Regions from separate parts of the Homo sapiens genome. Here region 1 is linked to region 2. Evidence: fine-mapped expression QTL. A gene starts in region 2. The other region holds a variant in brackets. All regions are shown on one strand. Distances are between the middles of the regions.

Region 1 (16,226 bases), 27 kb after region 2:
GTACTGATTAAGCCCCTTTAACTTGGCAGGACTTGGACTCCAAACTCTTATCTACCCTGCAGCTAGGGAGAGCTAAAATCTCAGCTTTTTTTTTGAGACGGATCTTGCTCTGTTACCCAGGTTAGAGTGCAATGGTGTGATCATAGTTTACTGTGACCTTAAACTTCTGGGCTCAAGCAATTCTCCTACCTTAGCCTCCCAAGTAGGTAGGACTACAGGCATGCACTATCTGGCTAATTTTTATTTTTGTAGAAATGGGGTCTCACTATGTTGCCCAGGCTGGTTTCAAACTCCTGAACTCAAGTGATCTTCCTGCCTTGGCCGCCCAAAGTGCTGGGATTATAGGCATGAGCTCCCGCACCCAGCCATCAGCTTGCTCCTTCAACCTTCAAGCTATCGTGTCCTTTCTGGGCTTGTGGGAGTCTCACCTCCGCTTACGCAGTTCAGGGTTCAGCCAAAGATTTGAGGGGACCTTATACTCAGACTTTGGGTTCCTTTTTTAGTGGGTTCCTCCTTTCCTATATTTCCCTCTCAATTTCCAGCTTCTTTAGCAGTCTCAAATCCTCCTTTAACCTGTCAGGCCAATAAAATTGCAGCTTTTTTTTCTCTGCTCCACTCCTCTGAGACTGGGGCATACTCTCAGGAGTAAAGCAATATAAAAGTGGATCTTGCCCAGTGATGTTCCCTTCTTTCAAGGGTCATATAAATTCCAAGCTTCTTTTTTATTTCTTGTTTGTCTCCAGTGTCTTTAGAAGATTGTTTTTCACATTTTATCTAGAGTTCATAATCTCGGTCTGTGAGAAAGTTATTTTGATACAGTCTACTTCTCTCTTAAGGGAATAAGAACTTCTTTGGGTTTATTTTTTCTTGACAGTGTGTTTTGGAGCTCTTTCATTATAGATATATAGTTTCTTTATTCTTCTTTAGGGTGGAATGGCATTTTTATCTGTGGGCTACTGTATTTAAACAGCAGCCCTCCTATGGACTTTTAGGTTGTCATTTTGCTTAAAAAATAATGAAGCAATTAATTTTCTAACCTGTCATGTATGTAATGCATCTGTAGGATTAATTCCCGAAAATGCACTTGCTGGGAAACATAAGTGCATTTGTAATTTTAGTAGATGTTAACAAATTGTTTTGTATGGTAGAACCAAGGTTTATTCTTTTTTTCTTTACCCACCTCTCAAGAGAACAGTTTTTATTAGGTGAAAGTGGTATTTGCTAAAAATTTTGAGTATTTTCCAAAATGAACTTGTTAAGTTTTCTTACTAAAAAATACATTTGTATCTCAGAAGAAAGTAGCAAAATATATTATATGAAAAAAATCACACCCACTAGAAACAACTGTTATTAGTCTTTCACGTTGCTTTCCTGTTTGTGTATGCTTTTCTGTGTTAGCAGTAATAATACAGTCTTATTACCTTGGTATTTATTTCAAACACTTGCTTAGTGCCCACTGTGTAAAGAGCTTTCTGGGGAGCTGTCACTGCCTGCCTGAATCTCCCTCACTGTCTGAGGGTGGTCTTAGTGCTCATGAGGTCGAGAATATCGAGTGCTGTGTCAGAAGGGCAGAGGTCAGGTGGATTTAAAGCTGTTGCACCAAAGCCAGGTGTGGCGACATGCCTGTAGTCCCAGCCTACTCATGAGGCTGAGGTGGGAGGATGGCTTGAGCCTAGGAGTTAGAGAATGCAGTGAGCCATGATTGTGCCACTGCACTGCAGCCTGGGTAATAGAGCAAGACCCTGTCTCTAAAAAATAAAAAAAATAATAAATAGGCTGGCACGGTGGCTCACGCCTGTAATCTCAGCACTTTGGGAGGCCGAGGCGGGCGGATCACCTGAGGTCAGGAGTTCAAGACCAGCCTGGCCAACATGGTAAAACCCCCGACTCTACTAAAAATACAAAAATTAGCCAGGCATGGTGACACATGCCTGTAATCCCAGCTACTCGGGAGGCTGAGACAGGGAGAATTGCTTGAACCCGGAAGGTAGAGTTGCAGTGAGCTGAGATCGCGCCACTGCACTCCAATCTGGGCGACAGAGCGAGGCTCTTTCTCAAAAAAAAAAAATAAAATAAAATAAATAATAAATAAATAAAACTATGCATCAAGCACCATCTCCCTGTCCCCTGGGTATGCCTTTGGAAGTGCAGTTTGCAGAGTGAGTGAGATGAGGCAGGGGAGTAGGAGGAGGAGCTGAGGAGGAGAATGGGGCAGGGGAAGATGAGACAGGGAGGAGGAGGAGGGGAGGAGAGGGGAAGGGATGAGAGAGGGAAGGAAGGTGGAGTCATTGTTCCTGCTGTTGCCTTGCGTGGCTGTGACAGCTGTTGAAGCTGTCTTCTCACAGTTTTGCACACTGTGGGTTATGATTCATTAGTGGCATGTGAAATCAACCATGTAGGTAGCAACCTTTTTTTCATGTAAGAATTTAAAGGATACAAGTATAAAGTTAAAGAACTTAAGGAAAAATTTTGCTAGATTCATTTTGAATTAGAGCTGTCACGTATTTCTTAGCTATCTGCATGGAAAACACCTAGAAGCAATGACAGTCCAATAGCAGTGGAGCACACCTAGGACTTTATTGTAGTCTGAATTGTATGTCAAGTAGTGTGGTTACAGTAAGTGAGGGGATGTAGCTTTTTGCCACAAAATCTGTACTTTGGAAGGTGAATGTGAAGCAATGAGAACAAATGGAGATTATTAATCTGTGCTGTGGTTGGCGTTCAGAATTAGGCCACATTTTAGTATGTTTCATGTGGGGATCATTATTTTTTTTTGGACCAGCTTTTTTTTTTTTTTTTTTTTTTTTTTTTTGAGATGGAGTCTTGCTCTGTTGCCCAGGCTAGAGTGGAGTGCAGTGGTGCGATCTCGGTTCACTGCAAACTCCGCCTCCCGGGTTCACGCCATTCTCCTGTCTCAGCCTCCCGAGTAGCTGGGACTACAGGCGCCCACCACCGTGCCCGGCTAATTTTTTGTATTTTTAGTAGAGACGGGGTTTCACCGTGTTAGCCAGGATGGTCTCCATCTCCTGACCTCGTCATCCGCCCGCCTCGGCCTCCCAAAGTGCTGGGATTACAGGCATGAGCCACCGTGCCTGGCCTTTTCTTTAGAGTTTCTGATGAATTGCTTTTCTTTTTTCTTTCAAAAGAAACATTAAATTTTAAAAAATTTCAGTAGCTTTTGGGGTACAAGTGGTTTTTGGTTACATGGGTGAATTGTATAGTGATGAAGTCTGGCTTTTATTTTATTTTTTGAGACGGAGTCTCATTCTGTTGGCCAGGCTGGAGTGCAGTGGTGCGATCTCGGCTCACTGCAACCTCTGCCTCCCGACCTCAAGCGATTCTCCTACCTCAGCCTCTCGAGTAGCTGGGATTACAGGTGCCCACCACCACGCCTGGCTAATTTTTATATTTTTAGTAGAGACGGGGTTTCACCATGTTGACCAGGTTGGTCTCGAACTCCTGAGCTCAAGTGATCCACCAGCCTCGGCCTCCCAAAGTGCTGGGATTACAGGCATGAGCCACCTCACCCTGCAAGTCTGGGCTTTTAGTGTACCCATCACCCAAAAAGCGTACATTGTATCCAGTAGGTAATTTTTCATCTCTCACCTCCCTCCCACTTTCTCCCTTTCTAAGTCTCCAGTGTCCATTATATCACTCTGTGTGCCTTTGTGTAGCCATAGTTTAGCTCCCACTTATAAGTGAGAGAACCATGCCCGGCCCAGACTTCTTTTTTTAAATGTTCTAATAAAACTTTATTTACGGCTGGGTGCAGTGGCTCACACCTGTAATCCCAGCACTTTGGGAGGCTGAGGAGGGTGGATCACCTGAGGTCAGGAGTTCGAGACCAGCCTGGCCAACATGGCGAAGCCCCATCTCTACTAAAAATACAAAAATTAGCCGGGTGTGGTGTTGCGCGTCTGTAATCCCAGTTACTTGGAAGCCTGAGGCGGGAGAATCGCTTGAACTTGGGAGGTGGAGGTTGCAGTGAGCTGAGATCGTGCCACTGGACTCCAGCCTGGATGACAGAGTGAGACTCCGTCTCAAAAAACAAAACTAACAAAAACAACAACAAAACACAAGAAAACCCCACTTTATTTACAAAAACAGGTGGCTTGCCTGTGTGGTAGAGTTTACTCAGCCTTTTTCTAGAGAATGCCTTGTTATTGTGAATGAGATTCAGTTTTATTATGGTAGGCAGTGAGATTACTGGGAAATCTTTTTTTTTTTTTTTTTGTCGTGTGCATCTTTGTTTAGTCATTATTTTGATAGCTCTGTATCAGTTTTTTTTTTTTTTTTTTTTTTTTTTTTTTTTTTTTTTATGAGACAGAGTTTTGCTCTTGTTGCCCAGGCTGGAGTGCAATGGCACAATCTTGGCTCACTGCAACCTCTGCCTCCCAGGTTCAAGTGATCCTCCTGCCTCAGTCTCCGTAGTAGCTGGGGTTACAGACATGTGCCACCACGCCCTGCTAATTTTGTATTTTTAGTAGAGTTGGGGGTTTCTCCATGCTGGTCAGGCTGGTCTCGAATTCCCGACATCAGGTGATCCTCCTGCCTTGGCCTCCCAAAGTGCTGGGATTACAGGCATGAGCCACCGCACCCGGCCTCTGTATCAGTTTTGAATTTAGTTCTGGGTGTTTTCCTTACACCTAAAGTGTGGACTTTTTGGATTTCTACTGAGTAGCCAGTTCAGCAAAGTCTCTTCAGCTGATTATAATGTTCAGGAAAGACTCTTCAGCTGATAATAACTTCTGGCATCACCATTCAGCAGTCAGTCAAACATTAAATGATTACCTGTAGGCATTGTGGAGTTTCATCTCTGCATGTCCAGGCCAGCCCTTAGTCAAGGCCCAAGAAACATGTTTTTATCGTCAAGAACTTCTAGGCTCTTAGTTTACATAATGGAATCTTACAGATTTTCCTTTGTTTGCTTGCTGAACACTGTCATTGTCACCCTGGGATTTCTTTTCTCTGCTTCCTGGGTTGGTTCCACTGTTTCTTGGAGTCCACATCTTTTTCTCTCTTGGATGATCCTCGTTTTGCTGGGAGTAGATCCTCTAGTATGTTTTTCAAAAGGGGGTTTTTAGAGTGTAAAGATCCCAAGGCACTGCAGGTGTGAAAATAACTATTTTGCACCTTGATTGACAGTTTGGTTTTAAATTAACTTCCAGATTTAAATTAATTTCCACACAGAATTTTAAAGGGATTACCATATTCCCATTTATCAGGATACATCTGATGCTGATCTGAGTCTTACTGCTTTTACAGGTACTTTTTTTTGCATTTTCTTATTGGAAACCTAAGATTCTCTTGAAATTCTGCAGTTTTGTGAAGATGAGTCTAAATGTTGAGGGTTTGTCTCTTACATTCAGCCTACTTGTTACTGTGCTTTTTCTGTCCATAAAATTGAGTTCATCGTTGTTGTCTTCTGATATTTGTGTCCCTCTTTGATTCTGCCTGCTCTTATTCTCCTCTTAGGAAACTGTTAGACTCGATGGACCCAGCTTCTGTGGCCTTTAATTTTTCTCATGTTAAACTTTTTACCTTTTCACTTTATGTTCTAAGACAGGGTTGGCAAACTTCATGTAAAGGACCAGACAGTAAATATTTCAGGCTGTGTGGGCCAGGGGGCAAAATTGAGGCCATTAAGTAGGTACTTATATAAGAGAGAAAGCAAATTTTCGTAAATTTTTTTATTGATGAAATTCAAGGTATAATAATTGAGTACAATTTTTTGTAATATGGTTCTACTACTGAGAATGGAATTCTTTTTGGGGGCTAACATTTTGCTTAATCAGGGTTCAAAGTTGGTGATTCCCTTTATCGAATTGGTGGCAAATGTTCATCTGTAAAACATTTGCAGCTGTGGCCATCAGCAGCAGGCAGGCATTGGCCAACCCCGCAGTTCTCCTTCACATCATTCTTTGGGCTCTCCGCTATGTCCTTGTTATTATTCTACGAATTTTTTATTTTGGCAGTCATATTTGTAATTTCTAAGATATATTTCTTGTTCTCTGTTCTCTCTTTTTCTTTTTTTTTTTTTTTTGAGATGGAGTTTCACTCTTGTTGCCCAGGCTGGAGTGCAATGGCGTGATCTCACCTCACCGCAACCTCCGCCTCCTGGGTTCAAGTGATTCTCGTGCTTCAGCCTCCCGAATAGCTGGGATTAACAGGCATGCGCCATCACGCCCAGCTAATTTTGTGTTTTTGGTAGAGACGGGGTTTCTCCATATTGGTCAGTCTGGTCTCAAACTTCTAACCTCAGGTGATCTGCCCACCTCAGCCTTCCAAAACGCTGGGATTACAGGCGGGAGCCACTGCACCCGGCCGTTTTCTCTTTTTCATAGCTATCTAGTCTTATTTTATGGATGCAGTTCTTCTCAAGTGTCTCTAAGTATACTAGCTAGAATGTAGGTTCCTGTGCCTGTCTCTTCCCATTTGTTCTTTGGCTTTTCTCTCTCATGCTGACCGTGGGGATCACTGTGTTTGTGAGGGAAGGTTGGGGTTGACTAGTGTTCAGAGCATGTGGGTTTTCTTTTTAGTCATGTCTATTTCCCTGGAATCCTTCCCCTCCCTGCAGTAGCCAAAATAGAGGTGAGGCTGCTCAGCTGAGTGGCACCTCTTTCTGTATCTCCCTCCTGGTTTGCCTTTTTCCCTTTGAGCCTACCTGAAGGTCAGGGTCAGCTGGTTCTGCCCTGTATAGGCAACTTTTAGGAAGGAGCAATCTGAAATTGTGACTCTACTCTGGTTTTTAAAGACAGAAAGTGACAGTCCAGTTAATACCGGATATTGACTCAAATCTAGTTCTGATGCTGCTTTTCCAACTTTATGACAGTTTCTACATCTGTGGTATATGGAATAATAATTGAAGCACTAAATTTTATTCTGAAGCAATCAGTCTTTTTGGAATCAGGAAATATTAAACTTTATTTGTTACAGGTTAATGAAATAGAATTGTATGAAAGTACCATTTTTATAGCCAAAACACTGTTGAAAATCAGCACTTTGATTTGGTTCAACCTAATATTTAAAAAATTATATTGTAATTGTTATGTTTATTTATTGATCTGTGAATATAGTCACTCTAACCAGATTTTTTTTTTTTTTTTTTTTTTTGAGATGGAGTCTCACTCTGTTACCCAGGCTGGAGTGCAATGGTGCTATCTTTTCTTACTGGAACCTCTGCCTCCCAGGTTCAAGCGATTCTCCTGCCTCAGCCTCCCAAGTAGCTGGGATAACAGGTGCCCATCACCACGCCCGGCTAATTTTTCTACTTTCAGTAGAGACGGGGTTTCACCGTGTTGGCCAGGCTGGTGTCGAACTTCTTACCTCAGGTGATCCACCTGCCTCAGCCTTCTAAAGTGCTGGGATTACAGACATGAGCCACCGCACCCAGCCAACCAGAATATTTAATTAAGTAGCCCTCCCTATTTGCAAGCCATTCTGGAATTATCAGAGTTCTAAGAGCCTTCACCAGCAACAGATCCAACTTCTGCTTTTCTAGATTAGGAAATTTGCCTTGAAGAAGTGAGCTTGGCCAGAGGCACGCTGTTTAATTTCAAAGTGCTGCTGACTCAAACTCATGAGTCCTGGAGGCAGGTAGAGGCACTTGTAGGCTGAGGACCCGTAGAGCCCGGTGTGCCCTGCCCAAGCCCCACCTGGGAATGGAGTTATCTCTGTAAAGATCTTGCTGCCTTTGAGCAAGCACTGCAAATGGGGTAACTGGAACAGCCTTGTCGCGTGTTTCCACCCTTCGTATGAGGCAGGTACCATGGGTCTTCACCAACAGCACGGCCTGTTGTCTCCAGGAAATGGTAGCCCCTCACAGTGCTTTCTGTCTGCTTGTTTAGCTTTGGCATTTGAATGTGCAGAATGGTGGACTTTGAAATTAATGTCCTTCTGTTGACTGCAGAATTTCTGCTGGAAATGCAGGGAGGCTGCTTGTGGGGTTCGCGTGCTGTGGGAAGTAGGGAAAATGAGCTGGTTTACTTTGTGTCTTTTTGTGCATGCAGACTGTTTGGATTTTGCCAACAGTTTCTGGGTGCTGCCTGCTTTTTAAACTTTTAAAAAATTGTAAACAGCTTCAGTGGCTTTGCAGAAGGAAGCTGTGGTTTCTGGTCTTCCTGTTCAGTCATGTTTTTTTCAGAGGGAGGGCTAACATCT[G/C]GCCATATTTTTCAACAAATTCAGAAGTGAGTAGAGAATGCATAGTAGCTGTCGGCAGAGGAGGAACCAGAATCTCTCCAAAGAAATTCCTCAAACAGAATTTCACACAGGGTATTCCATGGAGAATGAGGTAGGTGCAAGTCCAGTGTGGAAAGCGCCATTTAGAATGATGATGGTGTGAGTCCCTTGTGGGTGGCTTTCATGGCTGCTTCCCAGGGCTTGCCCATTGTGAGCTAGGGTAGCCCAGTCTCCATGACCCCTGCTTTGGGAGGATGGGGTGGGTGGAGGGTTCATTTGCTGGCTTCCTGGTCTGAGACCCTGTGGCAAGGGGCGTGTATGGAGAAGTGCCGTTCCACCCAGGTGGGGAGTATAGGTTGTTGGATTCATCCATCTTGACTCAAGGAAGAAGAAGCCACAGGTTTTACATCTTCCACGGAGAAGTAATTTTCCTATGGATTTGTGGTCGGGACCCAAGAGCCTGGTTGAAAAATGATGTAGGGAGATGGCCAAGCAAGAGAGCACCCAAAGCTGGAATTTCATCCACGAAGCCTGCAACACTAGTGGGGTTCTGCTTGAGACTCCACCAGCATGGATCCTGGCCACCGCCAGTGTGGCCTCCTGTGGGCACTAAGGTGCCTATGCCTTTCTCACTGAAGCAAACAGGCGGTAGTGGGCAGAGCTCTGGTTCCCCTTGAAATTCGCTCTGTCAGCCGGGTACAGTGGCTTATGCCTGTAATCCTAGCACTTTGGGAGGTGGAGGTGGGTGGATCAGGAGGTCAGGAGATCAAGACCATTCTGACTAACATGGTGAAACCCCGTCTATACTAAAAATACAAAAAAATTGCCGGGTGTGGCGGCACGCACCTGTAATCCCAGCTATTTGGGAGGCTGAGGCAGGAGAATCACTTGAACCCGGGAGGTGGAGGTTGCAGTCAGCCGAGATTGCGCCACTGCACTCCAGCCTGGGTGACAGAGTGAAACTCCGGCTCAAAAAAAAAGAAAAGAAAGAAATTAGCCGTGTCCTGAGATGCGGGTGCACACCGGCTGTGTCATACTTATCATTTAGACCTCTCCAGCACCGAGGAAAGGTCCTTTTTCCATTGGTAGGCACCAAAGCACTTAAAAAAAAAAAAAGCTAATCTGTCAACTGACACTGCAGGGAGTGCTGGAAGTTTGTGGAAATTCACATAGGCAGGGGTGCAATGTGGGTGTCCACAGAGGAGTTCTTTGTCATGGAGCTTGTAGGAGGGGATTTGTCGTAGTGCCTCGGATGTGCACCTTAGGCAGTGTGATTTATGAGGATGGCAGGTGTCTCTCTGGGACTATAGCCTATCACTGTCCAGCTGGACAGAATCATCGCTCCAGGTTCCACTGTCTTCTCAGACCCAGGCACTGAGTTTGGTGCCTCTTCCAGTCATTTTCCCTCATTCCTGCTGGGCCCTCATGTGGCTGTGCAGTTGCGGTTTGTCTGTCTCCCTCTTTAGACTGGGGGTTCCCTGGGGGCAGGGACGGTGGCTTCTACAGCCCCAGTGTCTGGCGCATAGTGAATACTCATGAGATGTACTGAATGTTGGCCTTAAGGATACCTAGGCCTTTTTATAATACTTTAAACATCTTTGTTCAGAGGCGGTTTTGTTTTATTAGATAAAACCCACCTTGTAGTTTATTCATAAGGGTTAAATAATTTGCGCAAATGAAAATGCCTGAACCCTGTAGCAGAGACATGCTGGGTACTGCTCAGTGTGACTAAGTGTTCTTCTCTTTCTTCCTTCATAGACTTTTTAGCACTTTCTCCAGAGTAATACTGAGCTCAATGTTTTGCATGGAGAATGCAGCTAGAAGGTATAGCCATACTATTTACTTTGGTCCCCAAGTAGAGGCCACTGTTTCATGAGTCTGCTTTTGCTGGTTCTTTTAGTGGATTCATTTCTCCTTGTAAATTAATAAACAGGTGCCCTGACTTATAAGTTAGTTTCTGAGAATTTGTTGAGCAGATCCAGTTACTCCAGATCCTGTTCACCCAAGTGAGCTGATAATGTTGAGCTTCAGATTTAACAAAACTCAAGACCCGCAGTTGGCATCTGAGGGCCAGCCTTGCCCAGAGCCTGAGCCTTGGCTTTGTGTGAGGAGGGCATTCTCACTAGGTAAGCCCTAGTAGGCCAGATTTAGTTTTAGTTTTTTAACTCAGAAGTACATTTTAGGTTTCCAACTTTAAGAGTTGTTTTAAGCTTAAGACGTTAACTTTGTAAGAATTTGTAAGGATCTAGGCATCTTCCAGAGTGAGTTTAGAAAGTTCTGTATAGTTATCTGAGGTGGCATATATTCCATATGGATGTCTTTGCACAGCGCTGCATGGTGACTCAGAGCCCTGTGTTCCCTCCTCCTGGCTCCGTACTGTGGACTCTGGCAGGTCCCTTCGACCCTCACAGCCTCAGTTTCTTCAGGAGAGACTTAGGCTGGGATAGACTCCACACCTCACTTTGGTGCTGGGACTCCACTCATGGAAGAGAAATAGCACTTAGCCTGGTTTCCTTCTGGGGACTGAATTGGTCCTTTGGTCTCTGAGGTTCAAAGGTGACAAGATCATTTAGTGGTGATGAACAGGCATACTCAATCAAATACATGTTGAATGAAGAATGGTTGCCTGGGCTAATCCCACCTTTTAAATTCTATGTGTCCATCTATAGTACATTCTAGTGAGTTAAAGAACCCATGATGGTTTACTGGAATCCTGATTCTGTACATTAAAAATATGCTAAACCATTTAATTATTTCCCTCGTTCCTTCCAGACAGGGTCTCACTCTGTTTCCTAGGCTGGGTGCAGTGGTGTGATCACAACTCACTGCAGCCTCAACCTCCCAAGCTCAAGTGATCCTCCCACCTCAGCCTCCTGAGTGCCTGGAACTACAGGCTAATTTTTAATATTTTTTAGAGACAGGTCTCGCTATGTTGTCCAGGCTGGTCTTGAACTCCTGGCCTCAAGCGATCCTCTTGCTTTGGCCTCCCAAAGTGTTGGAATTACAGGTGTGAGCCACTGTGCCTGCCCTCAATTTATTTTATTTATTTTTTTCTTGAGACGGAGTCTCACTCTGTCACCCAGGCTGGAGTGCAGTGGCGTGATCTTGGCTTACTGCAACTGCTACCTCCCAGGTTCAAGCAATTCTCCTGCCTCAGCCTCCCGAGTAGCTGGGACTACAGGTGTGCACCACCATGCCCGGCTAATTTTTGTATTTTTAGTAGAGACGGGGTTTCACCATGTTGGCCAGGGTGGTCTTGAACATCTGACCTCAGGTGATCCACCTGCCTTAGCCTCCCAAAGTGGTGTGATTACAGGCGTGAGTCATTGCACCTGGCCTCGATTTATTTTTTAACTAGAACTTTCCTTTAAATTTATTTTCTTTCTTTTTTTAGATTTAAAGAGAACAGGGCCTTGCCCAGGTGCAGTGGCTTACACCTGTAATCCCAGCACTTTGGGAGGCCGAGGTGGGTAGATCACTTGAGGTCAGGAGTTTGAGACCAGCCTGGCCAACATGGTGAAACCCCATCTCTATAAAAATACAAAAATTAGCCAGGTGTGGTGGTGCACACCTGTAATCCCAGATACTCGGGAGGCTGAGGCAGGAGAATCGCTTGAGCCCGGGAGGTGGAGGTTGCAGTGAGCCGAGATCACACCACTGTACTCCAGCCTGGGCTGTATAGTGAGACTCCAGGTCAAAAAAAAAAAAAAAAAAAAGAGGGCCTTGCTTAGTCACTTAGGCTGGAGTGCAGCGGGCAGTCATAGCCCACTGCAGCTTTGAGCTCCTGGGTTCAAGTGATTCTCTCCCCCCAGTCTTTCAGGTAGCTAGGACTACAGACGTATGCCACCACGCTCAGCTTTTTTCTTTTTAATTAATAATTATTATTTGTTTTGAGATGGTCTTGCTCTGTCACCCAGGCTGGAGTGCAGTGGTGTGATCACAGCTCACTGCAGCCTTGACTTCCTAGGCTCAAGTGATCCTCCCACTTCAGCCTCCCAAGTAGCTGTGACTACAGGTGTGTGCCACCATGTCCTGCTAATTTTTATGTTCTAATTTTTGTATTTTTTTTAAAAGATGAGGTCTCACCCTGTTGCCCAGGCTGGTCTTGAAGTCCTGACTCTAGTGATCCTCCCATCTTGGCCTCCCAAAGTGTTGGGATTACAGGTGTGAGCCACTGCGCCCAGCCATCAGCTTAAATTTTGTGTTCAAAAGCAACTTCTTTTCCAAAAATCTGAGGTGGCTTCTTGTTCAGTTTTGTATCTGGAATAGCAGAGAGCTCTTCCCCAGCACCGGCTGTCCCTCCTACCACCCCCTGCAGCTGAGAGCTGAGCAAACATTACCTCTGAAAAGCCCCATCATCCTCAGCGAGAACAGCAGCTACCCTGCATTCCGTGCTGAATGGGTAGGAGTGGCAGAGGGAGGCTGCAGCAGATGTGCAAAGATGCATTTCTTTACTTAATAGTGTTAATATTCCACTTTCTAGGAAGGCTTACCCATCAATTAAAATTATTTGAGACATTAAAAAAAGAAACTTAGGGTAGCTGCTATTGAAGACTAAGGACTAGGGCCAGAGAGACGCCTGCCTCCAAGTAGTCCACAGAATCTGCTTGTTAAAATGTTCGTGATTTGGAGGCCCAGGTAGAAGGGGCAGGTTCCTCTGAAGCGCCTTGGCATGCCCTATCTTTGGCGTTCCGGGGTCGCCCTCCTCTGCTAGTCTGTGAGCAGTCAGAAGGTTGTATCTCCTGTTCATTCCTCTCCTTGTCTCTTGCTGCTCAGAACAGCAGCTTTAAGAACAGGGTGGCTGAGCCCTAAGTGTACCTTTGGAGCATCCTGTGTGTCTTCAGCATTGATTGACTGTTTTTACTGTGGATTTAATTTCAGTTACTTTACTCTGGTCTTACTACTTCGGCTTGACTGTGACATCGTTGAGGGCAGGGGCTGTGTCACCTCTAACCAAAGGGCCTCCCCAGATGCCTAGCCTGGTCCAAGCGTTCCATCAAGAGTCAGTACCAGCGTTTATTGCTGTCCAGTCTGTGCAAGCTCCATGCTGGCTGCTGGGTAAGAGCCAAGGGCAGCCAGGCCTAATGGCTCATGCCTGTAATTCCAGCACTTTGGGAGGCTGAGGCTGGTGGATCACCTGAGGCTGGGAGTTTGAGACCAGCCTGGCCAACATGTTGAAACCCCATCTCTACTAAAAATACTAAAATTAGCCAGGCATGGTGGTGGGTGCCTGTAATCCCAGCTACTCCAGAGGCTGAGGCAGGAGAATTGCTTGAACCGGGGAGGCAGAAGTTAAGTGAACCAAGATTATGCCATTGCACTCCATCCAGCCTTGGTGACAAGAGCAAAACTCCGTCTCAAAAAAAAAAAAAAAAAAAAAAAAAAAGAGCAAAGGCCAGAGGAGGAAAGAGCTGAGCTCGATGTAGGGAAGAATTGATGTGATGCTTGGGCAATAAGAGGCATCTACAGATGGCCGTCCTGGTTTCCTTGCCCTGCAAGAGTTCCTACTATTTCTCACTGCCTAACTGCAGAGGGTCTCTCTTTAGGGGTGGGATTGTAGGACGGGGGAGCGCCAGAGTCCTTCCCAGTGCAGACTGTAATTCTGTGTGGAGACTATAATTTTATGACCTGTACATCAACATTAAAATAACAGTGTAGGTTGCATGTGGTTTGTGGGACCTGTTGATTTGGTGTGGGCTTCTTGGTTAGAGGTTGATCTTGGCAAATCTCCTGTCTCAGAGTTGGTTTCCTGTTGCTCCCATAGGTAGATTAGTAACTAGTTTGGCTAACAGGCAGCTTTCAGAAGAGCCAACAAATGGAGCCAGGCTGCTTGCCCACACTGTCAGATTCAGAGCTCAGTCACTGTCCATGACACAGCTAGTTATCATTTAGGAGGAATGAGCTTTGGGGGCTAGCAGGCAGAAATGGTTTAGGGACAGCCATTTTCCTGTGGCTGATGTGAGATTATCCATGTCTGTGGAGATGCAAGCTTCCGAAAAGCTGGGCTCATGGGCCAAATGCCTCTGTATTTCCATAACCTCCAGGCCAGGGTCTTGCACATCATAGGGCCTGGGAGAATAAGTGAGTGGTCAAGCATACACATTTGAAAAGTAATTCATGTGCCATCTGTCACTTGAGAGTGCCAGAAGAGAGGAAATCACAGGCAAGCAAAGCCTGGTGTGTTTTTAGTGAGGCTAGAGAAACATGATTTTTTGCATGGCTAAAATTGCATCACTAAATTTTGAGGGCCGTTTTTAACTTACAGTTTACCATGATTTCTTGGCTGACAAATCATAGGTGACCATTTCTCACCATTCTCCCATGAGAACCCCGCACTGCAAACTACCTGTCATGTCCAAACTTGTCCTGGGGCTCAAAGCTTGTCAGGGATTAAGGAGAATGAAGCCCGAAAGTGCCTTAGGGACATCCTGTCTTCACTGCTGTCATAGAGCCAGGGCCTGGGCAGCACAAGGCCACATGCTTTCTGAGCCCAGGCCAGTCCCAGCAAGCTCTTATGGAAGCACTTTTTTTTTTTTTTGTTTTGAGACGGAGTCTCTCTCTTGTTGCCCAGGCTGGAGTGCAATGGTGTGATCTCAGCTCACTGCAACCTCTGCCTCCCGGATTCAAGCGATTCTCCTTTCTCAGCCTCCTGAGTAGCTGGGATTACAGGCATCTGCCACTACACCCAGCTAATTTTTGGTATTTTAAGTAGTGACGGGGTTTCACCATCTTGGCCAGGCTGGTCTCAAACTCTTGACCTCAAGTGATTTGCCAGTCTTGGCCTCCCAAAGTGCTGGGATTATAAGCATGTGCCACCATGCCTGGCCTTTTTTTTTTTTTTTTTTTTTTTGAGATGGAGTTTCACTCTTGTTGGCCAGGCTGGGGTGCAATAGCACAATCTCGGCTCACTGCAACCTCCGCTTCCCCGGTTCAAGCAATTCTCCTGCCTCAGCCTCCCAAGTAGCTGGGATTACAGGCGCCCGCCACCACACCCAGCTAATTTTTGTTATTTTTAGTAGAGACGGAGTTTCACCATCTTGGCCAGGCTGGTCTCTTAACTCCTGACCTCAAGTGATCTGCCTGCCTCACCCTCCCAAAGTGCTGGGATTACAGGTGTGAGCCACTGCACCCAGCTTCTGGAAGCATTTTTAAAAAGTTTTTATTTTTCTTGAGACAAGGTCTCACTCTGTTGCCCAGGCTGGAGTGCAATGGCATGATCACAGCTTACCGCAGCCTTGACCTACCGGGCTCAAGCAACCTCCTGCCTCAGCCTCCCAAGTAGCTGGTACTACATGCGTGAACCACCACACCTGGCTAATTTTTGTAGTTTTTGTAGAGATGGGGTCCCACCAGGTTGCCGGGCTGGTCTTGAATCCCTGAGCTCAACAATCTACCCACCTCGGCCTCCCAAAAGTGTTGGGATTATAGGCGTGAGCCGCTGCACCCAGCCTGGGAGCACTTTCTGTCCCCTCTGTGGTTCGTCTTAGAGCGGATCATCTTGTAAGGATGTTGGTGATCTTAATTTTTTATGCTTTTATATTTTGCCTCAGTTTAAGTGTAATCAGCAGGAAGCAGAAAATATATTCATCATTTTCAAAAAATATTTAAAAATTCAAATATTAAAAAAATACAGAGAAAAGTTAACAAAGCTACTGTATACATCATCTGGCTCCAACTGTTACCAACTCTGAGGACCTTTAGTCATCCTTACTCCATGCTCTCCCCTACCACCGGATGTACTGAGCAGCAGAGAATGGGACCTGGGAGGGGGCCTATTCCAGGTCAAAGGGGAGAGACTACTCCTGGTCAACGGGGAACTACTCTGGGTCTATGAGAGGACTAGTTCAGGTAGATGAGGGACTACTCCAGGTCAATGGGGAACCACTCTGGGTCAAGGGAAGACTATTCCAGGTCGGGCAAGGGGAGCTATTCCAGGTGAAGAAGGCGGATGCAGGGGTGGGTCCAGTCAGCCCAAGTGAGAGAGGAAGCATTTTAGCAGATTATAGGGCTTTAAGCCTGGGTCACAGGTGTGTCACCTGTTGGGGGCA
Region 2 (16,226 bases):
AGAGACGCTCCTCACTTCCCAGACGGGGTGGTGGCCGGGGTGAATTTCTCTTTCAAAGGGGTAGCTTATGCTGTTTTCATAGCTTCTGTTTCTCAAAATTACTAGCTCAGAATAATCCTTAGGCCAAGGAGGCATATTTTGGGGTGGCATATTCTGGTCTCCTACAGATGTATGCCTGAAAAGAAAATTAGCAATTTGGCTCTAGAAGAATAAACAGTGTTAGCTAATGAGATGTCAAAATGGAACTTGCAAGGTTGCTTCCGTTGGGGGCCACACAGTGTGGCTGTATTTCTGAGGGGTCATTCTGATCCAGAGTTGATTTGGTCCTTCATGATTTATAGGCCTGGAAACTGGATATTAAAATTCACTGATAGTTCACTCTAATCAACTCTGAAGTGTCTTTCCTTCACTAATGAAGTCTATATGGTTTTATCATGTGCACAACAGTCAAAGTGTTGCATGTCATACGTCAAAGAATAACTCAGAGAAGGCCAGGCGCGGTGGTTCATGCCTGTAATCCCAACACTTTGGGATGCCAAGGCGGGTGGATCATGAATGAGGTCAGGAGTTCGAGACCAGCCAGGCCAATATGATGAAACCCTGTCTCTACTAAAAATACAAAAATTAGCAGGGCGTGGTGGCACACGCCTGTAGTCCCAGCTACTCGGGAGGCTGAGGCAGAAGAATCGCTTGAACCCAGGAGGCAGAGGTTGCAGTGAGCCAAGATTGTGCTACTGCACTCCAGCCTGGGCCACAGAGCGAGACTCTGTCTCAAAACAAACAAACAGAAATCAGAGACATCTAGTTAGTTATTTGCAAGCCAGTTCTCATATGAGGGAGACAACTGATAGACTCAAGGACAGATGGCTGAGAGGCACAATAAGAAAACAACTGCAGTCAGTTTCGAGACCAGTGAAAAGATTCACTTAAAAAAATTGGCTGGTTGGCTGGCTGCAGTGGCTCACACCTGTGATCCCGACACTCTGGGAGGCCGAGGCTGCTGGATCACCTGAGGTCAGGAGTTTGAGACCAACCTGGCCAACATGGTGATGGTGAAACCCTGTCTCTACTAAAAATACAAAAATTGGCTGGGTGTGGTGGTGCATGCCTGTAATCCTAGCTACTCGGGAGGCTGAGGCAGGAGTCACTTGAACCCAGGAGGTGGAGGTTGCGGTGAGCCAAGATCATGCCACTGCACTCCAGCCTGGGCAATAGAGCAAGACTCTGTCTCAAAAAAGAAAAAAAATTGGCTGGAAGGCTGGGCACAGTGGCTCATGCCTGTAATCCCAGCACTTTGGGAGGCCAAGACAGATGGATTGCATGAGTCCATGCGTTCAAGACCAGCCTGGGCAACATGGTGAAACCCTGTCTCTACAAAAAATACAAAAATTAGCCAGTGTGGTGGTGTGCATCTGTAGTCCCAGCTACTTGGGAGACTGAGGTGGGAGGATAGCTGGAGCCTGGGAGGTTGAGGGTGCAGTGAGTTGAGATGGTTCCACTGCATTCTAGCCTGGGTGACAGAGTGAGACCCTGTCTCAAAAAAAAAAAAAAAATTGGCTGAAATCTAGCAAAAATGCAAATCTGGGAACACTGTCTTTGAATAGGCCAATTAAGTGTAAATTTTCAGTGTTTAGGGGTTTTCTTAAAACCAGGGAAACATTACCTGAACAGGGCCTAGCTGGGAAGCATCTATGAGAAACTATGTTCAGGTAATGTTGCCAGTGCCCCTCCACCTCAGTCTGGCTCAGTGTACATAATTTCCCTTATTAGAGTTTATTTCAGATACAAGGAGGAATCCCACATAGTCCGTACCTTCAAAGGAGCTTATTCTAGTAGAGGAAATGTCCTAAACCTGGTTAACTCTAGCATCACAGACATACAGATACAGTTATCTGGAAACTGGAGGAGGGAAAAATTGCATCCAGAAATTTAGTGGAAGATGTGATTATTGAGCTGGGTCACAAAGCTCAACAGCCAAATTCACCAGCAGTCTAAAAGACTTGGGTTTAAGCCAGGCGCGGTGGCTCACACCTGTAACCCCAGCACTCTGGGAGGCCGAAGCAGGCAGATCACGAGGTCAAGAGATCAAAACCATCCTGGCCAACATGGTGAAACCCCGTCTCTACTAAAATACAAAAATCAGTTGGGCAAAAAGATTTGGGTTTATTAACCTACCATGACCAGGGAGAGCACCCCAGAGGAAGAAGGGCTGCTTCTCATTACGAGGGAATAGGAAGGGGACTTTGTAAGGTTTGGGCTGGCCCTGAGTAATTCTGAAGAGGGGACAAGGGGAAGTGAGTATCATGGCTATAAAGTTGCTTTCATGAAGTGTGGGCAGTTTAGTAATTGGGTACCTTGGTCGCTTTTGTTCAAGATGTAGGAGCCACACAACAGGCTGGGGAGGTTATTGGTAAGAAAGCAGTAATCATAAGTAGGTGGCTGTTAGGACACTTTACAGCCAAGGTGTGACCTGGAGAGAAAGAAAAGATTGTTTTATGTTATAATTGTCTCATTGGTGTCTGTTACGAGAGACTGAATATACAAATAGACAATGGCTGGACCATTTGTACAACTAGAACTCTGACTGACAACCTGCAGAAACCTCCTCAGGAAACCAATTCGTTATCTACAGCAACCAGCCCAGGAAACAAGCCTGCTGTAAGTCATACTTGCAGGAAGCCAGGTGTTATCTCTAGTGACAATCCAGGAGTAACTTTTCTAACAGCCCCCAAAGCCTAGGACTTAATTAATAACTGGCACCCTATCTCTCACCAGATACAAAAATCAACTCAAAATGGATTAAAGACTTAAACATAAGACCTGAAACTACAAAACTACTAGAAGAAAACATAGGGGAAATGCTTCAAGACATTGAACGAGGCAAAGATTTTATGGCTAAAATTTCAAAAGCATAGGCAACAAAACCAAAAATAGACAAATGGGACTATATTAAGCGAAACTAAAAAGCTTCTGCACAGCAATGGAAACAATCAACTGAGTGAAAAGACAACCTTTAGAATGGGAGAAAATATTTGCAAACTATTCATGCGGCAAGGGACTAATATCCAGAATATACAAGGAACTCAAACAACTTGACAGCAAAAAACCACAAATAATCCATTAAAAAGTGGGCGAAGAATCTGAGTAGACATTTCTCAAAAGAAGATGTACAAAAAACAAATAGGTACATATAAAAAAATACTCAATATCATGAGTCATCAGGGAAATGCAAATCAAAACCACAATGAGATACCATTTCACCCCATTTAGAATGGTTATTATCAAAAAGGCAAAAAATAAGGGTGTTGGCGCACCTGCAGTCCCAGCTACTTAGGAGGCTGAGGTGGGAGGATCCATTGAGCCCAGGAGCCCAGCTCCTTAGCTCAAGCTGCGGTGAGCTAAGATCATGCCACTGCACTCCAGCCTGGGTAACAGAGGGAAGCCCTGTCTCTAAAAAAAAAAAAAAGACAAAAAATAAGGTTGAGCGTGGTGACTCAAGCCTATAATCCCAGCACTTTGGGAGGCTGAGGCGCGAGGATTGCTTGAGCCCAGGAATTTGAGAGCAGCCTGGGCAACATAGAGACCTCATCTCTACAAAAAGTAAAAAAATTAGCCAGGTGTGATAGCAGACACCTGTGGTTCCAGCTACTGGGGAGGCTGAGGTGGGAGGATCTCTTGAGTCTATGAGATCAAGGCTGTAGTGAGCAGTGATCATACCACTGCACTCCAGCCTGGGTGACAGAGTGAGACCTCATGTCAAAAAAAATTAGTATATATACACAATAGAATACTATTTGGCCATAGGAAAAAAAAATGAAAATGTCATTTGCAGCAACATAAATAGAGCTAGAGGTCACTATGTAAGCCTGTAATCCCAATACTTGGGAGGCTGAAGTGGGAGGATGGCTTGAACCTAGGAGTTGGAGACCAGCCTGGGCAACATAGTGACCTCATCCCTGTAAATTTTTTTTTAAACAAAAAAACAAAGACAAGTATTGCATTTACTCACTCATATGTGGGAGCTAAACAAATATTCATCTCATTGAGATAGAGACTGGGATGATAGCCACCAGAGGCTGGGAAGGGTGTGTGTTGGGGGAAAGTAGGGGGCTGAAGAGAGGTTGGTTAGCGTGTACAAACATACAGCTAAATAGAAGCAATAATTTCTCATGGGTGTGTGTGTGTGTGTGTGTGTGTGTGTGTGTGTGAGACAGATCTGGCTTGTTGCCCAGGCTGGAGTGCAGTGGTGCAATGACAGCTCACTGCAGCCTCGACCTCCTGGGCTCAAGGACCCCACTTCAGGCCCCTGAGTAGCTGGGACCACAGGTGCACACCACTATGCCCAGCTAATTTTTGTATTTTTTGTAGAAGAAGGATCTCACTATATTGCCCAGGCTGGTCTCCAATTCCTGGGTTCACGTGATCTTCCCAGCTTAGCCTCTCCAAGTGCTCGGATTACGGGTTTGAGCCACCACACCCAGCCTAAATTCTAATGTTCCATAGCAGAGTAAGATGACTATAGTTAATAACAATGTACTGTATATTTCAGAATAGCTAGGAGAGATCTGAAATGTCTCCAACACAAAGAAATAAGTGTTCAGGTGACGAATATCCTAAATACCCTGATTTTATTATTACACATCATATGCATGTATCAAAATATCACATGTATTTTGGCCGGGTGCAGTGGCTCATGCCTGTAATCTCAGCACTTTGGGAGGCTAAGGTGGACAGATCACATGAGGCCAGGAGTTCGAGACCAGCCTGGGCAACATGGTGAAACCCTGTCTCTACTAAAAATACAGAAATTAGCCGGGCGTGGTAGTGGGCACCTGTAATTCCAGCTACTCCGGAGGCAGGAGAATCGCTTGAAACTGGGGGGTGGATGTTGCAGTGAGCTGAGATTGCACCACTGCACTACAGCCTGGGCAATACAGAGTAAGACTCTGTCTCAAAAAAAAAAAAAAAAAAAAAATTAGCCTGGTGTGGTGGTGCATGCCTGTAATCCCAGCTACTTGGGAAGCTGAGGCAGGAGAATTGCTTGAACCTGGGAGGCAGAGGTTGCAGTGAGCTGAAATCATGCCACTGCACTCCAGCCTGGGTGACAGAGTGAGACTCTGCCTCACACACACACACAAATCACATGTACCTCATAAATATGTACAATTATTATGTGTTAGCTGGGTGCGATGGCTCATGCCTATAATCCCAGCACTTTGGGAGGCTGAGGAGGGAGGATTGCTTGAGCCTAGGAGTTTGAGACCAGCCTGGGCAACATAGTGTGACCTTGTCTCAACAAAAATATACTAAAATTAGCCAGGCTTGGTGATGCGTCCTTGTAGTCCCAGCTACTTGGGAGGCTGAGATGGGAGGATTGCTTGAGCCCAGGAGGTTGAAGCTTCAGTGAGCCATGACTGCATCACTGCACTCTAACCTGAAGGACAGAGTGAGACTTTATCTCTAAAAATACAAAAGAAACAAAAAATTATTTGTCAATTAAAAAAAAACTGGCAGCTTTCCTAGTTTTCGGTCCTGCTTCCAGCTTAGGAGCAACCAGAGAAAGACAAATATGTGCCCCTAACCAATCACTTGGGATGCCCTGCCCCTTGCTTCCCCAGGCCAACAGCCTCAAATGAGGACATCCCTGGAGGCTTCCCTTTTTTCACTATAAAGCTTACCCACTCCTCTGCCTGACATTGAGTCTCATCCAAATACAAATGATGGTGGCTGACTCCCTTGTTATAGCAAGCTAACAGCCTTTTTGCTTTTCTCATTTTATTGTCTTTATTCCCAGTTATCACCATCTGATCATTAGCCAGTGGACTTTTGCTTGAAGCATGAACCTGTGTATGCAAAGACAGGGCAAAGGTATTCTGATGGATAAGAACAGCCTGAGGAAGTCAGCACATCCAGAGTTAGGCTAAGAGAAGTTTTAGTAGTGTTGTTTACTGTATTATGGAGTGATAAATATGCATTTGTGGAAGACGGTGGAAGACTTTAAATATCAGGCCTTTGTTCTGTGAATGGTGGGAAAATAATGACAACCAGATGCGCTACATCATTTGCGTGTGTAAATGTGGCAAGCTGGATTATTGCAGAAGGCAGATTGAAAGGGTGTTTCCACTATCTCTGCTTTATCTTGCAGAGAATGGAATACTTATGCCTTTGGAGAGGTCTAGAGACCAAGTATTTCTTTTGAATATCAGTATAACATAGGCCCAGTCAGGAGACAGAAACACAGTAAAGAAAAGTTTAATATAAAGAATTATTAGGCCGGGCGCGGTGGCTCACGCCTGTAATCCCAGCACTTTGGGAGGCCGAGGTGGGCGGATCACCAGGTCAGGAGATCCAGACCATGGTGAAACCCCGTCTCTACTAAAAATACAAAAATTAGCCAGGTGTGGTGGCTGGCGCCTGTAGTCCCAGCTACTCGGGAGGCTGAGGCAGGAGAACGGCGTGAACCCGCGAGGCAGAGCTTGCAGTGAGCCGAGATCCACGCCACTGGCACTCCAGCCTGGGCGACAGAGCAAGGCTCCGTCTCAAAAAAAAAAAAAAACCACCAAAAAAACACAGTTTACATTCTAGCTGTGCTACAAAGTTCTTACCGGCAGATTGGTTTAGTGGCAAAATAGCAGACCTGCTGGTGACTCCAATTTGTAGTGTGCTTTTGGGCGAATCACCTCATTCCCCGGACCTCATCTGGAAAATGTGGAAATTATACCGGATGACTGGTAAGGTTCTACGATTTTATTCTGATAGGGTCTGCACATCCTTGTGGTTGCACTTCTATTTTCCAAATGTGTTTGTCTAAGGCAGGCAGACTTTATAACAGAGAAGTACTAGAAAACGGATTCCCTGTGGCTCAGGGAATAAAGTGGGACACAAGAAAAAAGAAAACCGCACCGCACCCAGACTCTCGGCGGGACGCCCCGCCCCTCAACAGTGGCCGCCTCCTCGCGCCCCTCCTTCGCCATCTGCCGGCCGCGTCCCCTCCCGCCGGCCCCCGTCCCCCGTCCCCCGCCCCCCGTCCCCTTTTCAGAGACCTGAGCTCCGCCTCCCTGGACGCGAGGCAGGCTGGGAAGTCGGCCGCCGTAAAGATGGCGGCAAATTGAAAAAGTTGGAGCTGCTCCCGCGCGCGCTCCCGCGCGCGCTGAGTGGGCGGAGCGAACAGGGGGCTGGACAGGTGCGTTCTCGCGGCCGTGCAGAAGCGAAGTAGGGGTAGGAGCGTTTCCGGCTCTCCTGAAGGACGCGGGGCGGGGTGGGGGTGGTGCAAGGCAGGCGCGTTCTCGGCCGTCCTGAAGGGGCAGGATCTTCAGCCTGTGGGCGGTGCTCTCGCCGTGAGCGGGGCCAACGGGCCGTGTTCTCCCTGAAGGGGCGGGGTCTGATCGCTGCGGGTCGGATTCCCTTGGGCCTGAAAGTGAGGATGAGCGACAACCGTGGGCGGGGCCTGCGCTGGGGAAGGTGGGGCCTGGGCGGGGCGGAGGGGGCTCGGGCCCGGAAGTGCGGGTGTGGGGCGCGGCCGGGGCGGAGACTTCGGGCCCGGCTGGCGGGCGGCGCCGGGAGCGCGGGGGCGGCGGGCCCGGGTCGAGCATGTAGCGGCTGCTGGCGGCGGGGCTCCCGGGGCGGGCCGGGCGGGCCGCGGGAGCCGCACGCGGCGATATGGAAGAGGAGGGCAAGAAGGGCAAGAAGGTGAGCGTGCGCGGGGGCGTCCTACTGCTGTGGTCGGCGGGCGGCTGGGTTGAGGGGCCAGGGTGGGGTGGGCGGGTGTTCCTTGGGGCCCGGGGGGGGGGGCAGTGGGCCAGCTGGCGGGGCGGGGCGGGGCAGGGCGAGACCCCGGACAATGGTCAGGTGGGCTTTCGCGGCCGGGCGGGCAGGAAGCGCCGCGCCTTTCCTCTGGCCCGGGCAGCGGCTCGCCCCGACCTCGGCCCCAGACGGCCTTCCCTGCGCGTCGGGACCTGGGGCTGCAGAGGAAGTGGGCCCGGCGAGGGGCCAGAAAGCTGTCCAGGGCTGGAACTGGAGCTAGTGGGCTGTGTGGTTAACGTGGAGACGTTTGCTGCTCACTGGACTTCGTTTTTGGATATCCAGTAAAAGCAAGGGTGGCCTTCACCTTATGGCCAGCTCACTCGTCCACTATCACTCAGACCTAAAACCATTGATTGATTTTAGTGACGCTAGCTACATTTGGCAGTGGGATTTAGGACATAGTTCATAGTCAAACCCCAGTTTATGTAGTTTTACAAAATGTGGCTTTAATTACAGTAAAGGGTTATAGTAGTCGATAAAGAAACATTTTAAGACTGGAAAAACGATGTGGATTGAACTACCATTAAAGTGGAAAATGGATTTTAATAAAATGTATCTTTTTCAAATAAATGCTTTATAATCTTCACGTCTTGGCTATCATTTTCTTTTTGATGTGTGTGTGCGCACTTTTATCCACAAGTTTAAAGCAGACCTCGATAATTCCTAACTATGATTTTACTACCCTGAACTCTGCAGGGAAGTGTCCTTTAATTGACAGCTACTCACCACCTTGTTTGACAGAGTGCCCCATTTAAAAGTCCTGTTTGAAATAGAATGTAGCCAGGTGGCCTTCAGGGAGTCCTGTGGTGCTGGTTCTCTACTTTCTCAACTCATTGTTTCATGTTAGCACCATGCATGTCTAATTTAGGTGCAGTATAATTTGCGGTTATCTACAAAGATGTTTTAAGTCTGGAAAATAGCTCAAGATAGTGATTCAGCCTGCAGGTGTTAGATTAGAGATGCGTGCTGCGCACAGAAGAGGGAGGAGCCAAGCAGTGTAAAAGGAGTTAGCTGGAAAGGAGAGGTGCTAACCCGGTGGCTGCTTAGTAGGGACCATCAGGCCCGAGTGTGGATGATGCTGAGCTTTGCGGAAAGTGAGCCATGTGCTCTGTGGAATGCCGGGATCCAAGAGCGCGCTAAGGACTGATGACCTCATTGTGCACCGCTTACAGGAGTACCTGGCCCATCTACCTGTGTGTGATAGGCAAGGATGGAATTGAGTGATTTTTTTTTCTAGAGCTGTCTATCAGCTTTGGTAGAAACATGAAACACCCAGCAAATAGGGAGAGAGAGAGAGAAGCAGTAAGACTGTTTTTGGGGTACAAGTGAAAAAACAGTAAAATTATCAAGAATTTTCCAGTTGGGTAATGAAAAAATTTAGGCATAAACAGGTTAATTATTAATTTCATTTTCTCACTAGAGGAGATAATCAGTTGTTATGTAGTTGCTTAAGCCAGGGGTTTTGTGTTTTTTCTGTATTCTGCCACTTGTCTTAGCTTGTTTCCTGTAGACAAGCCAGACAAGGAGCTTTGGGGCATGGATTCTTCTCCAGGTCATGACTTAACACTACCTCGTGTACTCTGCCAGTTGCAAGCTGGCAGAACCTTCCTGCTCAGCTACCACATTCAATGTGAGATCACCTCCAGTTTAATAACTTCGGTGGTTAAATCATTCTCATTAAGGTAAATTGCATTGCTCTAAACTTATACACAAATTCAGACATAAGTAGCAGAAGTGCTGACAATAGTTTTATGAAGGTACAGTTTGGACGCTTAAATTCTTCTAAGTTAGCTTCTTCAAAAAATGCAGAATTAGGCTGGGTATGGTAGCTACGCCTGTAATCCAGCACTTTGGGAGGCCAAGGCTCGATCACTTTAGCTCAGGAGTTCGAGACCAGCCTGGGCAACATGGCAAAACCCCATCTATACAAAAAATACAGAAATTAGCCAGGCGCGGCAGCGCTCGCCTATAGTCTCAGCTACTTGGGAGGCTGAGGCAGGAGGATCACCTGAGCTCAGGTGGGCCTTTTTTTTTTTTTTCTTTTTAATCTCAGACACTTGTCTTGGTGTCTGCCAAGCAGTGATTCAGGCTTTTTTTTACCTCGGCCCATTTTCCTCAGGACACAGGAATCAGTGAGTTGGCAGAGAACCTATGGACCAAAGTGAGTCTCACGGAAACTTGGCCCCAGTGTATCACTGCCCTTTCTCAAGTCACCTCAGCACATGTGGTGATGATGACTGTACACCTGGGTTTCCTCAAGTGGGCCATGGTTCGTTTAACAAATGTCTGTTGAGCCCCTCTTGTGTCCCATGAAACTCACTGGGTGATGGGGATACAGGAAGAGCTTGTGGCCCCCAGGAGCTGATGGGGAGATGGATCACTCATGGGTCCATCTGAAGGAATGAGTGCATTGACAGAAAAGTCCTCTGGCCACTAAAGGTGTGGGGCCTGGGGAGTAGAAGTGACCACTTGGGGCTGCTCTTCTGTCCTGATGTCTACAGAGTGTCTACTTTTTAGCCTACAAGTTCTGTTTTGGGGTTTGGAGAATAAGGCTCCTACCTACGGTATGGACTCATGTTCTGTGCATTGTGGCACTATGTAATTCCTTTTTTTTTGAGATAGAGTTTCGCTCTTGTTGCCCAGGCTGGAGTGCAATGGCACGATCTCAGCTCACTGCAACCTCCGCCTCCCGGGTTCAGGTGATTCTCTTGCCTCAGCCTCCCGAGTAGCTGGGATTACAGGCGTGTGCCATCATGCCCAGCTAATTTTTGTATTTTTAGTAGAGACGGGGTTTCTCCATGTTGGTCAGGCTAGTCTCAAACTCCGGATCTCAGGTGATCCACCCACCTTGGCCTCCCAAGGTGCTGGGTGGCTGAGCCACCGCACCTGACAGTAATTCCTTTTTATTAGAAACTTGGATGCACTTAAGTTGGGTTGTGTGGATTTTTATACTCAGATCACAGCCCAAAAAAGCTGTCTTGTCAGGGTTGGGTGTAGGTAATCCTAACACTTTGGGAGGCCGAAGCAGGCGGATCACTTGACACCAGGAGTTTGAGACCAGCCTGGCCAGCATGGTGAAACCCCGTCTCTACTAAAAATACAAAATTAGCTGGGCGTGGTGGCATGTGCCTATAATCCCAGTTAGGAGGCTGAGGCAGGAGAATCTCTTGAACCCGGGAGGTGGAGGTTGCAGTGAGCTGAGATCATGCCACTGTACTCCAGCCTGGGCAACAGGGCAAGACTCCATCTCCAAAAAAAAAAAAAAACCATCTTGTGGCCTTAACCTTGTGGGTCTCAGCTTCTCTGCTGCCTCTGGTCTTCGGTTGCCCCACCAGGTGGCTATGATTTCACACTGATCAAAGTTAAATATTTTTACATTCATCTAGTTTATTTGCATTGTTTAAGGTAGAAAAAGGTTATAGGTTGAGTGTAGTGGCTACGCCTGTAATCCCAGCACTTTGGGAGACTGAGGTGGGAGGATCACTTGAGCCTAGGAGTTTGAGATCAGCCTGGACAATGTAGTGAGACCCTATCTCTACAAAAAATAAGAAAATTAGCTGAGCATGGTGGTGCATGCCTGTAGTTCCAGCTACTTGGGATGCTGAGAAGGGAAGATCGCTTGAGCCCTGGAGGTCGAGGCTGCAGTGAGTGTGATTGTGCCACCACCTGAGTGACAGCAAGACCCTGTCTCAAGAAGAAAAAGAGAAAAAAAAGGTTATAAAGTTCCCTAGAAATGTAGGACTAGATATTAAATAATAAATAAGGAATTATTAATTTTGTTGGGTATGATAATTAAGTTCTGATCTGATAGGCATGTATTCTGAGATATTTGTAGGTGAAATAATATGATTTCTGGGATTTGCTTTACTCAAAATAGAAGAAACAAAGGGGATAGCTGAATGCTTTGGTAATGGTTATATATTGTTCTGTCTACTTTTATGTATTTTTGAGAATTTCCATAATAAAAAGTGGAGGGGAAAAGATCCTCTAGGTTACAGGCCCTGAACTATCAGCTGCTGTAGTCACTGCTGGACCAGTGTCTGTGAGGAACTGAAAGCTTGGATTGGACCAGTACCTTTTAAAATTTGGTCACTGCAGGCACCAGGAAGCCATACCTTCTCCATGCTGACCTGATGCAGACATAAATGTGTGTGTCTGTATAACCGAAGTGAAAGTTTAAAGGAACCACACTTAAACGCTCTGATTTTTTAATTCTATTTTTTTTTCTTTCTATTACAACTGGTGGTTGGCCAGGTGCGGTGGCTCACACTGGTAATCCCAGCACTTTGGGAGGCTGAGGTGGGTGGATCACCTGTCAGGAGTCTGAGACCAGCCATGGTGAAACCCCATCTCTACTAAAAATACAAAAATTAGCTGAGCGTGGTGGTGGGGCCTGTAATCCTAGCTACTTGTGAGGCTGAGGCAGGAGAATTGCTTGAACTCGGGAGATGGAGGTTGCAGTGAGCTGAGAATGTGCCATTGCGCTCCAGCCTGGGCGACAAGAGTAAGACTCCGTCTCAAAAAAAAAAAAAAGGCTCATGGTCATGACCCACTAAACCGATTCTATAACTGTCACAAGCCATACTTGGGTTCAGAAGGTGAATTGGGGCTGCTATATTTTGTTTTATTTTTCCTCTTGGGTAGCTATTGCAGTGATTCTTGGATGGCAACTTGGTAACTCAGGGTCAGGAGGCTGGAGAACCAGGCAGGAGGTGCTCAGCAGAGAACCTAAGGCAGCCAGTAGGTGAGGCCAGAATGATCGGCAACATAAGGCTGGTTACTTTTCTGTCTTGAAGAGTTACCATTTACATAGTATGTATTTGTTAATTTTCAACATATTGTCAGATTCTGTCATAATTTAGATTCAGAAAGCACATCAGAACCTTCCAGGGCTGCTCTGAGCATCCTTTCAGAGGAAGATAGTGTAAAGCAAAACGTTTCTCTTAGCAATATTATTGCAGTGAAGGGCTTCCCTGCAGACGAGAAGGGCGTCTGCAGTCTGCCCCACTGGGGCGCTTACTCTTGATCTTCCAGTTTTTTCATTTCCGTCAGCAGTGCCCCCTCCTTGTTGTCACTTTGCAGTGTAAGTAAATGGTCATGATTAAGTCCTATAAACCTAACTATTGAGCATTTAAATCACCCTCTATTGTTGGTTTACGTGGTGGCGATACAAGTTTTTAGTGAGATAACTTGGTCATGCCTTGCCTATTATGTGCTTAGCCCACTGAGAAGAGGGTTAGGGACATTGCACTTTGGAAAGTAGGTCACTTACACCTAAAATTAGAGACTAAAGGCAGACCTAGGATGTCAGAAGAGACATGGGGCAGGCAGCAGCCACTTCCAGCCAGGTTGAGACCGGGACTGTGTCCTGCAGTTCAGAAGCAGAGATGAGGTGGAGAGGACCCCCCAGTCCTGGGAAGTCCTTGGGCTGGGAAGTTGGGTGTTGGTTCTGTATGCACTTGAAGCCACTGGAGGTGTTCCACATCATGCATTCACTTGTCCATTAAACTATTGTTTATTAGCACCAATGGTGTCAGACACAGATGCTGGAGACTGAAATGTGTACGGTGAGCCTGTGGCTGCAGAGCAGGAAGTGGAGCCCGGGGATGGATGGTGGGAGCAGGCTTTGGTAAGAGTGATCAGGAACACCTTTATGAAAACTTCAAAAGCAAATGTAAAGAAAAAAAATCATGTAACGAAGTCCCCTGTGCCCATGTGTGGGCAGTCAGTTTCATGTGCACCTTCTCCTCATTCCTGCTTCCTGCCTGTGTGGGCCGAATAGTGTCCCCTCAGAGTCATGTGCTGAAGCCCCTACTTCCAGGACCTCAGGATGTGACTGTATTTGAAGATGGAGTCTTTTTTTTTTTATTTGTTTTTATTTTAGACGGAGTCTTGTTGCTCTGTCACCCAGGCTGGAGTGCAGTGGTGCAATCTTGGCTCGCTGCAAGCTCCGCCTCCCAGGTTCCCGCCATTCTCCTGCCTCGGCCTCCTGAGTAGCTAGGACTACAGGTGCCCGCCACCACACCTGGCTAATTTTTTTGTATTTTTGGTAGAGATGGGGTTTCACCGTATTAGCCAGGATGGTCTCAATCTCCTGACTCCGTGATCCACCCACCTCGGCCTCCCAAAGTGCTGGGATTATAGGCTTGAGCCACCATGCCTGGCCTGAAGATGGAGTCTTTAAGGAGGTGATTGAGGTAAAATGAGGTAATTGTGTGGGCCCTAATCCAATCTGATGGATGTCCTTATAGGAAGTTATTAGGACACAGAGAGGAATGATCATTGGAGGACTCATGGAGAAGGCAGCCATCTGCAAGCCAAGGAGAGACCTCAGGAGAAACCACCCTGCTAAATTTACCTTGATCTTGGACTTTCAGCATCTAGACTCTAAGAGAATAAGTTTCTATTATTGAAGCCACTCAAGTCTATAATACTTAGTCCTGGCAGCCCAAGAAGGCTAATGCACCAGGTGATTTTGAAGCAAACCCTAGAGTTCAGTTTGTAGATAGAAGTGCAGTAGTAACTCATCAAGACAGAAGAGTAACAAGCCTTATGTTGCTGGTCATTCTGGCCTCATCTGCTGGCTGCCTTAGGGTCTCTGGGGTGAGTTCTGAGGACCAAGTCTACACTGTCAACATGGCCACGGACGAGCTGCTCAGAGTGACAGGACAACCCTCACTGTGCTGTATGTAAACCATAAATCACAGCACACTCTTTGTGGTTGGGAGAACATGTATGGTGTTTTGGGAGCTGGCACAGTCAGGGATGTCATTCATTTCATCTGGGACAGGCTTTGTGCTCTGGGATCTGTGGCGGGAGCAGTGAGCCCAGCCATGTCCTCTGCATGCATCGCTGTGTCCTTGTGAACAGTGGATCTTTGTTAGCGCGCTTCGCACTCCTTGGCTTTTTTATCTTTCAATCAAGAACAGCAACTGCTCTTCAAATGATTCTACAGGTATGAGGGAGTTTACATTTGGATTTGTCAATGGAACCATTAGGATTTTTTGTTTGTTTGTTTTGTAAAAATAAGAACTTTTTTCCTTAGCCTTGTGTCTGTGCCAAAAATGTGACCTTTTTTTTTCTCCCAAGTGTGCCCAAACAGTAACAATTTTTTGCTTGGATTATGTTAAGAATTAGGGCATTTGACCATAGGCATTAGATGTATGTGCAATGAAAGTGATCCCCTTTAATAAGCATAATAGGAACATGGAATTTGGGCTTTTGTTTGCAGCTTAGGATGATGGTGTGTCTTGTAACCCAAGGAGGTTTTTCACTTTTCTGAAAGTGAGAAGACTGGTCAGCCTAAACCCGTGGTGTCACTGTTCTTAAGGGAAACCTAGTTGAGGAGTGGGAGATAACCATTTCACATGTTGTTTTTGTACCTTGGAGAAAAAAAAGAGAGAAGCCTTTATTTAAATCTTTATGTCTATTCTATAGTTTAAAATTCCATACAGGTTTTTTTCAAAAAATCAAATTTGCTTCCTGTGTGTTGTCACCATGAGCTCTCTGGTCAGGTGTGGAAACTGAAATGTTTCCCTTGTTGGTTTATGTGGTGGGGTACATTTTTTTTTTTTTTTTTTTTTGAGGTGGAGTCTTGCTCTGCTGCCCAGGCTGGAGTGCAGTTGCATGACCTCAGCTCACTGCAGGCTCCGCCTCCTGGGTTCAAGCAATTCTGCCTCAGCCTCCCAAGTAGCTGGGACTATAGGTGCGTGTTCCCATGCCCGGCTAATTTTTTTATTTTTGGTAGAGATGGGGTTTCCCCATGTTGGCAAGAATGGTCTTGATCTCTTGACCTCATGATCCACCCGCCTCGTCCTCCCGAAGTCCTGACCAATGTGTGCCTCTGTGTGCCACCGTGCCTGGCCAAGGGTACATGTTCTTTTTTTTTTTTTTTTTTTTTTTTTTTGAGACAGTTTTGCTCTTGCCCAGGCTGGAGTGCAGTGGCGCGATCTCGGCTCACCACAACCTCTACCTCCCAGGTTCAAGCGATTCTCCTGCCTCAGCCTTCCCAAGTAGCTGGGATTACAGGCATGCGCCACCAAGTCCGGCTAATTTTGTATTTTTAGTAGAGACGGGGTTTCTCCATGTGGGTCAGACTGGTCTCAAACTCCCAACCTCAGGTGATCCACCTACCTCGGCCTCCCAAAGTACTGGGATTACAGGCGTGAGCCACCGCACCCGGCCAAGGGTACATGTTCTTAATGAGATGCCTTGGTCAGGTCTAAGTGTCAGTTATGGTGCATGTTGATTTTCTGTCAGATGTCTGAAAATGCCCTAGATATGATTATGTCTAGCTAATTTATTACTGCCATTAGATACATCACCTTTACATAGCTTTTACTTTTCATGCTACTGGGTATAGACAATAACCATAGCCCACCTGCCTGTGCACTTCTAATATCAGGCTGAGTTCAAGTTCCTTT

Which allele goes with the higher level. Positions count from the first base shown, and alleles are read on the strand shown. Sizes are in standard deviations (SD) of each study's normalised expression.
In carriers of allele G in region 1, the expression in whole blood of the gene that starts at base 7,527 in region 2 tends to be lower than with C alone (moderate effect, 0.42 SD a copy in Lepik 2017).

What was found. PIP is the estimated chance that this variant, and not a neighbour inherited with it, causes the effect.
Region 1: its variant is fine-mapped to the expression of CCM2 in whole blood (TOPMed, PIP above 0.99).

What each region holds. Positions count from the first base shown.
Region 1 is chr7:45,019,508-45,035,733 of GRCh38, forward strand. All of the region lies in intron 1 of CCM2 (CCM2 scaffold protein), which reads left to right. Among named protein-coding and RNA genes, the nearest start is that of CCM2, 27 kb to the left of the region's middle. RefSeq lists a silencer at 7,590-7,659 and enhancers at 8,050-8,099, 8,702-8,771. The variant G/C (reference allele first, on the strand shown) is at 8,161.
Region 2 is chr7:44,992,675-45,008,900 of GRCh38, forward strand. CCM2 (CCM2 scaffold protein) reads left to right here and starts at 7,527. Exons shown (of 10, transcript NM_031443.4): 1 at 7,527-7,689. The coding sequence starts at 7,660. LOC102723334 (a long non-coding RNA gene) reads right to left here and starts at 7,334. Exons shown (of 4, transcript XR_428139.4): 1 at 7,044-7,334; 2 at 6,606-6,699; 3 at 2,355-2,470; 4 at 1-175. RefSeq lists enhancers at 2,256-2,305, 2,386-2,435, 2,476-2,535, 2,556-2,605 and silencers at 6,794-6,843, 7,474-8,003.